Homo sapiens: one gene and its partner. The protein of the gene in region 2 purifies or fractionates together with the protein of the main gene of each other region. This does not show direct contact. Each region holds a gene or a part of one and is shown on either strand. Other genes may lie near its edges. The genes, in order: VPS13C and HMGCLL1.

Region 1 (2,873 bases), on a different chromosome or scaffold from region 2:
CATTAGAAACACACACAGAACTTCGTTAAAAACAGATATCCAGGCAGCACCAGATCAACATACTTAGAAACTCAAAGCACCAAAAAGATGATAGTGTCCTCCTTCATGCATAATTCAAAATAAAAACAATACTAAATCATAAAACACATGGAAGTAAGTCCACCCTGGATGGCATTTTTCTTACGAAGCTTGGGTACAGTCTTCTTCCTTTTTTTTTTTTTTCCTTTTTTAATGCCCCTGCTTTGCTACAGCCCTCAGCATGAACTTATTCTTCCTACCAGATAATCCAGCACTGGGTGAGCCTTCCAAACTGGTAGTCTGAGCCCCATGTGGAAGAGGGAGGAGAAGAGAAAGACAGCGGTATGGTAGAACATCCCAGACTGCCATGCAGTCTAAGAAAGGTTCTGCAAGGCCACTGAAGAGTCTTCAAGCCAAAGTCGGCTGTCAGAGGAGTTCTGTGTCTCCTAGAATTTCCAGACTAAGTATGTCTTAGTATAACTTCATACTCAGCCAGTCGCTGAGAGAAACCACGGAAGGCATGGGCTCAATGCAAATACAGCAATGGATTTCAAAGTGCAGCTGGGCCCCTAGGTCAACCGCATTCTCTGTAATCCCCCAGTATTGGAGGTCTCTGCCACAGATCTCTAGTGTGATAAAGGGGCTCAGTACCCCTGAGAAAAAGCTTTTCTGACTAGTATCTTGTAAAGTCCTCCATAACTATCAATATAACTTCTCACTATTTTGGGATTGGAAGAGGAAAAGGGAAAGACAAAAAGTAAAGCAAATGTTACTTGAATAACACAAACCCACAAAGTTTTCACACCTGTAAACAATGTGCCAAATGTTTTATTTCTCTCATATGCAAGTAATTACCTCTCAAAGCATTTTTAAAAAACGCATTATTACACTTTACCAATGAATTATTTCTGTCCCTGGAGATTAAATCAAATCAAAATGTTACAAATAGTATCAGTATGATATAATTTCTTAAATATATGGGACATTGTCAACAGCTGTGATTCATATGAAAAATATAATCAGATATCTCAAATTCCTAATTCTGTTTTAAAAACACAAAACACTAGAACAGTTGCTATGAAATTACTGATAATGATCCCTTTAATAAACTGCAATTAACCACTAATATAGAAATTCAATTTAAGCAAGAAGTTTTATATATTATACTTTACAGAAAAAAATAATTTTGAAAAAGTAATGACAAACAGAGATCAAACATTTAGGGCATTAGTTACTGCATTCTCTTTTTAGAATATACATTAAGTAACACTAGTAAAATTTAAAGTTTTATGACCAGGCCTTAAAAAACATGAATGATGATGACAGAACCACTATCACACATAAACAAAAATAGAGCAAACCAAGCGTGTCCACATCTCCATGAATTCAGTGATTTGAAATAAATGTTGTTATGTTAAACATTATGAGCAAATCTAAAGGTTCAACCAAAAAACTTACATATTTTTGAGTATTTTTTAAAGTTTTAATAGTTTATCTCTGATCAAGGATGGAGAAAGGACAAAAAAAAATACTGTCCTGAATTGATTCTCACAGGGCCTGCTCCCTCACAGAACACAGTGTCATTATATATGCCTTATTTATATATAAAACAACCAAAGAATTTTCATTCTTCTTAGTAAGTATTTAAAATACATTCTAGGCGTGCATTAGGAGTAAATGTTAATTTGTGATGCCCTTAAAAGACTTTCAACCTGTAAGAAACAATTTCTGGGAATATAAAAATATTGAATTTTACATATTTCAGAGTCTTGAGAAACTTAAAGTGCAGTATTTTCATGTATCAGCAAATAATAATTGTGTCATATAAGCTCATCTTGAAAGAGGATGTAAATACTTCCAAATTTTTATGAATGCTACATTACAGAGGGCAGAGTGTAGCTATTTTAAGGTTTGATTGTCCAGATTTTTTTATTAGACTGCAAGGAGGAAAAATAAGCACCAAAGTAAAATATGCTTTATTAGGGGGAAAAACAGTGTTTTCATGAAAAGAAAATAGAAAACATGTCATTTCTCCCTTTAGTGACCTTTCTTCATTCAATTACCTGGTTTACCAAGAATGTTAACTCAGTTCAATTATTGAACAAATCACTCTTAAACAAAATGTCAGGATCCAACATTTGTTCATGGGTTAAAGCCTTTTGGCGGGCCGTGGTGGCTCATGCCTGTAATCCCAGCACTTTGGGAGGCTGAGGCATGCGGATCACAAGGTCAGGAGTTCGAGACTAGACTGACCAACATGGTGAAACTCATCTCTACTAAAAATACAAAAAAAAAAAAAATTACCCAGGCGTGGTGGCACACACCTGTAATCCCAGCTACTCAGGAGGCTGAGGCAGTAGAACAGCTTGAACCCGAGAGGCAGAGATTGCAGTGAGCCAAGATCGCACCACTGCATTCCAGCCTGGGCGACAGAGCAAGACTCGGTCTCAAAAAAAAAAAAAACCCCAAAAAAACAAAAATAAAAAAACCTTTCAAAGAACACTAGTCATTCTAAGCTCATTTCTTATTCTTCAGTAAGGCTTTAATTAAATATAAGCCTATTGACCTTTGCTTCACAATTTTAATATTAATGAAAATTTCATTCTGAGTTTGAAGTGACGTTTCTTCAAGGGTCTGACCCATTTGGGTGGTGGCGTAGAAGTGGACTGCTAGCATATACATGGTTACAAAATTAGAGTAAAAACTAAAAGGTGAAAAAACTAGAAAACCCAATACTAGCTATTCCAGAAAACTAAAACTAAAGGATTGCTTGAAAAATTGTCTTTAGCAAGATAAAGCAGAGTGACTTATAGACAAGACCAGTGATTGTTTTTTCTCCCTGTTGGAGCCCCTGA
Region 2 (7,314 bases):
CATTTCGGGCTGAAGCCATTTCTCATCTATCCGGCTGATTCCTCTGACTTTTGCTACTTTATACTTTTTTGGGTATTTTTTCAAAACCTGCTTTTCTTGAAATGCTGACCAGTCCTGGTTAACTGTTTGCTGCCCCAGGGTACAAAGTTTCTCTAAAGTTAAAGCTGACCCATACCCCGGATTGATAAAGGGTGAGATAGATAAGAAACTCTACTTTAGGGATTTGAGAATCACTGGATAAGAGGAGATTCTAGGACAGAGATGATTCTGGTTTGATTAATTTAGGGAGAAGCTTAGACATTAGTCATTTGAAAAGGGCTCCAGGTGATTCCAATGGGTTGACAGGATTGAGAATAATGGAAATTTCTGACTCCTAAACTGATACATTCAGATCCACTGAATAGATCAGTTTTAACCTATAAGTAAAGAAATGCCCCTGCCTGTTTATATCATGGCAGACTCCCAGAGACGGGTCAACATCTTAATATTTGTCTTTTCCAAGTACTGAACAATGCCACAAATTTCACTTCTAAAGTATAATTCCCCATTCTTACTGCTTTGATTCATAGTAAATGAAAATTGTCCTAAAGGTACCAGTATTTTACTGCTGAATATGACTAAGCTTGTCAGATCATTATGTGAGAAATGTTGTGGTAATGGAAAGAAAGCAATAGAGACCTTCTCATGTTGGAGAGTATAAGAAGAAGAAATGGAGGTAGAGAAACAGTCTATCCTTTGTAAACTTTCCTTAGGTCCCAAAGAATTCTAAGGCTTTTTAAGGACTGTAGTTCTTCCTTTGTGAGATTTTGTAAGTATCCTTTTCAGTCTTGCAAAGGAAACTCTAGGCAAGTGGTTGAAAACCCACAGTCCCTTTGGCATGCCTAAAGGACACAGGAGCCAAGTGAGAGAGCTCCCAATGGCCAAATGTTGAACAGTTTGAGCAACAAAAGACATAAATTGGTATTACGTTATAACCCAAAGTGCAAAATAATTACCTATAATTAGCTATGAGTCCTCCCTAATATAAATACATGTTAGAATAAGTAAATAAATGAGAATGGACAAATTTTCCATACAGAAGAATTCAAAATTTTTGTGTAGATACTCCCCATTCTTTAAGTGTGAGCTACGCATAGTGACATTTTTCCAAAACGTACAATACAGAAAGACTGTGGGGAGACTTTATAGTGCAGATACCTGGCAGACACCACCTCAGCCAGACAAGAAAAGTTAATACCAGCCGTCATAATTTATATTGATATTATATATCCTTGATATAATGCTTTCAGGATGACACTTTACCTCTGTGGTCTTCTCCCAAAACTCTATAACTCCAGTCTTAACAGGAGAAAAACTTAGACAAACCCAAGTTGAAGGACAATGTACAAAATACATGACGAGCACTTTGGGAGGCTGAGGAGGGGGGATCACTTGAGGTTAGGAGTTTGAGGCCAGCCTGGCCAACATAGTGAAACCCTGTCTCTACTAAAAACACAAAAATTAGCCAGGTGTGATTGTGCGCACCTATAATCCCAGCTACTCAGGAGGCTGAGGCAAGAGAATCGCTTGAACCCAGGAAGCAGAGGTTGCAGTGGGCCGAGATAACACCACTGCACTCCAGCCTGGCTAACCGAGCAAGACTCCATCTCAAAAAAACAAAATAAAACAAAACAAAAACATGACTTATACTACTCAAAATAGTTCGGAGAAACTGTCACAGCCCATAGGAGGCTAAGGATACCTGACTACTAATGTGGTATACTGGTGAGCTCCCAGAACAGATAAAAGACACCAGTTTAAAAATGTCTTTAGAAATGTCATTTTAAAAGTCTAAAGAAATCTAAATATTGCATGGATTTTAATAAAAACTTGCCAACATGTGTTCTTTAGTTATGACAAATATACCATAATAAGATCTGACAAAGAAGCCAAACTTCAGTCAGATTTCTAAAACTTCTCCTAAGCCCACCTCTTCATTTCCTTGTAAAATCCAGTTTTAGCAATTCCTACTAAATTAGCTTAACAAGAACCCCTATAGTCAATATCCAAATGCCCGATCTGATTAGGTCTCTCCTCCTCTACCAACCCGAAGGTCATGTCTGATCACCCTATCCTGTCTTCTGCAAAAATCCTGGTAGGTCAGTTTAGCCAGAATTCCTTTCACTCCTGATGTTTTCTCCTAGTAATTTTTAATCCACTGACCCCCACCCCACTCCTTGGCTATAAATTCTCACTTGCCCATGCTGTATTTGGATTTCAGCACAGTCTCTCTCTCCTGCATTGCATGTGGTCCCTGTACCTACTGCAATGTTCCTAAATAAATTCATCCTTGCTGTGCTTTAATAAGTATCATTGAATAATGTTTTCTGTAACAGATGTTAACCATAGAGAAAACTGAGTGTGCAATATATAGGAATTCTGTTTTATCTTCACAAATTTTGTGAAAATCAAAAACTATTTTAAAATTAAAAGTTTATCAAAAAAGTAAAGAAGGGAAGGAAGGCAGGAAGGAAGGGAGAAAGAGATTCCCACATGAGCAGCAGCTGTCAGAATCTTGTCAAAATTTAAAATTCTCAAGTCGCAGCCCAGACCTTCTGAGTCAAAAACTCAGGGAATGTAGCAGTAACCTGTGATTGAGAAACATGATATAGTTGGTTGGAAAGAGCTCTGCTTCCAGGTGCTTCTCATTTTAAATGTGATCATGTTACTTTTTCTTTAATGCCCAAGAGTGAAGAATCGGATTAGGCTTTACTGTATCTTCTGATTACCGAATTGTTACCTTTCACAGAGGAATGGCATGCCTGCCTCTGTTCTTCTCATATTATTAACATTTGAACTCCGGGGCCCTTCTCAGACCCTGTTGTACTCATGTCTTCCATAACTTCTCCGGTACACAGAGAGCTCTTCCACCTCTGATATCCCCAAGTGCATAATCATGTACCAAATCTCATGTTTCCAGAGGCTATAAATCAAAGCAGAGTGTAGATTCCCTGGAGACAGAAGATTTCACCTACCAGATAGTGACCTTGGGTAAATTGTTTATTCCCTCTGTACCTGAGTTTTCTTTCTGAGAACTGGGGATGATACAAGAGTATCTACTTCATGGATTTTGGGGAGAATTGTGAATTAATACACATAATTTGTTAATAACAGCATCCAGCACTTAGTGAGGAACCAATAATGTAAGCTGGCGTTACTGCTGGTGGCAAGTGTTTTGTCTCTTAAATATTTCTTCCTTCTCCCAAAGTAGTGGAGTTTTGTGTGCAAAACAATGAATGTCTCAATAAAGATTTGGTGAGTTGAATGGGTAAAGTGAGCCCACAAAACCCTATTTCAAACCCAGTGACTTCTCTCTCCCCTGCCCTCACATACCAGTCATCTAAGGCATTTTGATGTTGAAGTAGAATGTTGAAAATATTTCATGTTGCTTATAAAATGCTTTTAGAATAAAGTTAGAGAATTGGATAATATGTGAAAATCTGGAGTAAATTAACCTTACTCTAAGCTTCACCACCTACAGTTGAGCTGTTACCAACGAACAACACCATTTTACTTTTGATCAAAGATTATTCTAGCTCCAGAGAGCCTTAGCAGAATTTCTGTTAGCCTCAAAGACGAGATTAGACATAAAAGAAATAAGCACCCTGGGGACCATTCTAGAGGCCACTGGGTAAGTGAATATATTTGAATAACCAGTTCAGATTTTGCTTATTTGCAGTTTACCATAGGTTAAATAGAAATGCAACAATTTACATGCCATAAACACACAAGCTTTAGGTGGTTTGGTTTGTTTTCCAGATGGGAATTAATGTGGTGGACTCCGCAGTATCCGGATTAGGTGGCTGCCCTTATGCAAAAGGTGCTTCTGGGAATGTAGCCACTGAGGATTTGATATATATGCTTAATGGCCTGGGGCTCAATACAGTAAGTTACTTTAACGTATTTTAATATTCATGCATTCCTTGCAGCTCCAAATTGCAAAGCTTCTAAGATGTGGGAAGCAATTTTGAGGTCAAAGTTTTACTACACTTTTGCTATTTGCTAAAATGCACAGTGGGAAAATGCAATAAAAATTCTTTTGGGGTCTTTATAAAGTAACTCATTGCTATAGCTCAATCACCAATAATGCTACCATTTCACATTTTTATAGTGCTTCATGACCTCTAAAGAACTTTTTCATGTATTATCTGATTTGATTTTATACACTTTGTGAGTTGGAGCCTGTGTCTTTGCTGTTACGATTGTTGAGTTTTGCAGTTTTGTTTTTTGTATGGATGTTTTTCTTGGAGAAAATGGAGATCTTGATTGTCTCAGTGACAACTGTAGCTTCTGGAAGAACTCCCAGGGCACTTTTTAAATGATCAGTGAAAGAGGGGAGCTTCATAACACTTAGCATATGAGACACTGGATGGCAAGAATAGTCTCTTTGCAAGTTGTACCGGAAAAGTCACGTGCTATGTAACCACATCCACCAAATTCAGCACCTTGTTTTGCCCTATGATTGTTAACACAACCTGTTAGTCTATAGAACCGATTTATTTAGGAAAAAAATAAAAATCACAGATGATTAGACATTTAGAATTTCTGAGATGTAAAATAATCATCTGTATTGTAAAATGAATTTTTTTACTCTCTGCTGCTCCTATTCCTCCTTTTTCCTCATTCTACTTACATTAATGCTCCGGCTGCATTAAACTTGCTTCTAGTCTACAGTTCTGTACCATTTTATTCCTCACTTCTACTCCTTGCTCAGGTTTTCACTACCATGTGAAATGGCCTTATGCCTCGTATTCCATTTGGCCTGGAAAGTAAGACACCACCATCCTAAAAATAAGCCGTCTGGCATCTCCCTGCCTATCCCCCAGGTCAAACTGTTAGGTCCCATTCCTTAGTGTTTTCATGTTTTCCTCTGAACTTACCACAAGGTTATATAATTATCTTGTTTATGTGTCTATCTTCCCATGCAACCACAGAGCAATTATGACAGCTTATTCATACTTTATACTTGGTGCCTGTGGCATAAAGATGCTCCATAAATATTTATTGAAAGACTGATTTCACTTGGCACTAAACACCAACAGCTGTTGCCCATAAACACCAAAAGCTATTGCCTATTTTCTCTGGTTAGAAATAAATGTTATTTCATTTACATCGTATCTTAATCATTTATATCAGAAGCTAATGACATAAATGAGGGTAAATAGCTCCTTTCTTAGAAATTTAGATGACTGAATCGAACTCCATAGCTGATAGCTGATGCTTAATATATGCCAGTTATGTTCCATAACTCTGGAGTCCAAATGCAAATAAATCAAGTTTATTCCTAAAAATTTCAACATCCAAGGGTTGCTACATTGAGTAGCTGCCACAATTCAACTAGTCACCCAAGGCAACAAACCAGGATTCTCTATAGAATTTAATCTCACTATGGATTCCATGTCCAATCAGTTACCAAGAGCTGCTAATCTGACTTTAAAATATTTTGGTTGTCCTTCCCTTACTACCTCTGCTATGACTACATTGATGCAGGTCTGCATCTCTTTCCTGGGTGTTCATCCTATATACTGGTCGCTGGCTCCAGACTTGCCTTTAAAATCTATCTTCCATGCTACCATCAAAGGGTTACACCTAACATATAAGTATGAATAGGCTCTACGTCTGCTTGAGCAAGGATCAGTGGATTCTAATTTCCTGAAAGGAAGCCTGTGCTCTATCACATAATCTGGCCTATTATTACCTTTTCCAGGGTTAATGGTATATTTTGCCTTTATCCATATACGCCATGGATATTTAAGATATCTTGGACTGCTCTTCTCTCTGCCTGCATACAGTGCCCCATATATCCTCCATCCTCTTTTATACATTTTGTATAAACCTCAGGTCAGGCTTTACCCTTCTTGGCACTTTTCCCTGACACATTCCTTTCTGCATTTTTTTTTCCTCAGTGGGTTGATGGCCTCATATCTCTGCCTCCGTAATAACCTGGGCATATCTCTATTTGTGGCTTTAACTATGGTACAGAATTTTCTGTTGTGAGTCCACATTGCTTGCTTGAACTTGAAGGCAGAAACCACATTCTACGTGAGGTTCTTGAAACTCCAGAATCTATCATAGTATACGAGACATATTTAAGCACCCGACAAATGATTTAAGAATACATGCAGTGTTGTTTCATAATGATATCTACTGGTTAAATAAAATGGTAGAGAAAAGCCAAAACAAAATTCTTCTTTGGTGCGATATCAACAAATTCTACTGTATAATTGTGACAAATGGACTTACTGAAAAGAGAAGAAAGACATTAATGACAAAAATCTTTCTGTCAACCCTTGCTGGATGTAATTTATAAGTGAAAGGCACCTGAAGTTAATTGTTTACAGAATTTAAGTATCATTGGATTAAGGATGTTAAACAGATACTCCACGTAAAGCCGTTACCACGACAAAACCAACTTTCTCAAACCAAAGCAAATGTTAGTATCCTGAAAACAACTTTGTAATAAAAAGACATCATGAAAATAATTTACAAGTATCACTTTACAAAATATTTTTAATTCTTAAAGAGATAAGTAATTAGCTATATCGAAATGTCTCCAATTTCTAAAATGATATTCATTGTTATGAAAAGCCCCTATGAGTTTTTATACTTGTCTATTTTATGAAAGTGACAAGTTTTCATAGATATTAAAAAGTACTTTATAATAGCAAGGAAAACTGAATATTTTCAATTTTAAGCCCACATTGTTTCTAGTCCATATTGAGGGGGAACATAGAAGCTTATGAAATGCCACATAAGGGCAAGTTTGTGCTTAATCCACTTAATGCTTTGCCTCCTCCGGTGACAACAAAAGTGCTGGGTGGAAACTTTGATAGTGACCCTTTCCTTACACTAAAGCCAAGAGCATGTCCTGAACTTGCCCTTTATACCCAGCTGCATATCTGTCATCCATGGATTTACCTGAGCTTTTGTTGATCCTATTTATACTTTCAGACAGTACAACCTCTCAGGCGAACAAGTTCCAGATGTGTACTAAATACCACTTCATTTTATTTCACTTGCAACTACCTCCTTCAATATCATACTAGTAATAGTATTTCTGGCCTTGGTTTAAAAAATATATATGTATATATATGCATACACCTTTTCTGTAATCCTTATGGCTTTTTCAAGTTTGTTTCTTTATATAGTAAAGAGGATAGTTTTTTTTCTAAGTCAGTTCTTATCTATAAACTGCTCCAAAACATTATTTTGATTGTCCTTCGCTGATGCTTTGTTGACTGCTTTTCTAGTTCCATTATTGTCCTTCCTAGACTC

The links.
Region 1: the proteins of HMGCLL1 (region 2) and VPS13C purify together in Homo sapiens (affinity purification with mass spectrometry; 2 studies listed by BioGRID and IntAct, with this or other methods). This does not show direct contact.

Annotation. Positions count from the first base shown.
Region 1 is NC_000015.10:61,851,575-61,854,447, forward strand, and holds the end of VPS13C (intermembrane lipid transfer protein VPS13C), read right to left. Parts: 3' UTR 815-2,873; downstream 1-814. UniProt on the Homo sapiens protein: Mediates the transfer of lipids between membranes at organelle contact sites. Necessary for proper mitochondrial function and maintenance of mitochondrial transmembrane potential.
Region 2 is NC_000006.12:55,436,044-55,443,357, reverse strand, and holds part of HMGCLL1 (3-hydroxymethyl-3-methylglutaryl-CoA lyase, cytoplasmic), read left to right. Parts: intron 1-3,798; coding exon 3,799-3,924; intron 3,925-7,314. UniProt on the Homo sapiens protein: Non-mitochondrial 3-hydroxy-3-methylglutaryl-CoA lyase that catalyzes a cation-dependent cleavage of (S)-3-hydroxy-3-methylglutaryl-CoA into acetyl-CoA and acetoacetate, a key step in ketogenesis, the products of which support energy production in nonhepatic animal tissues.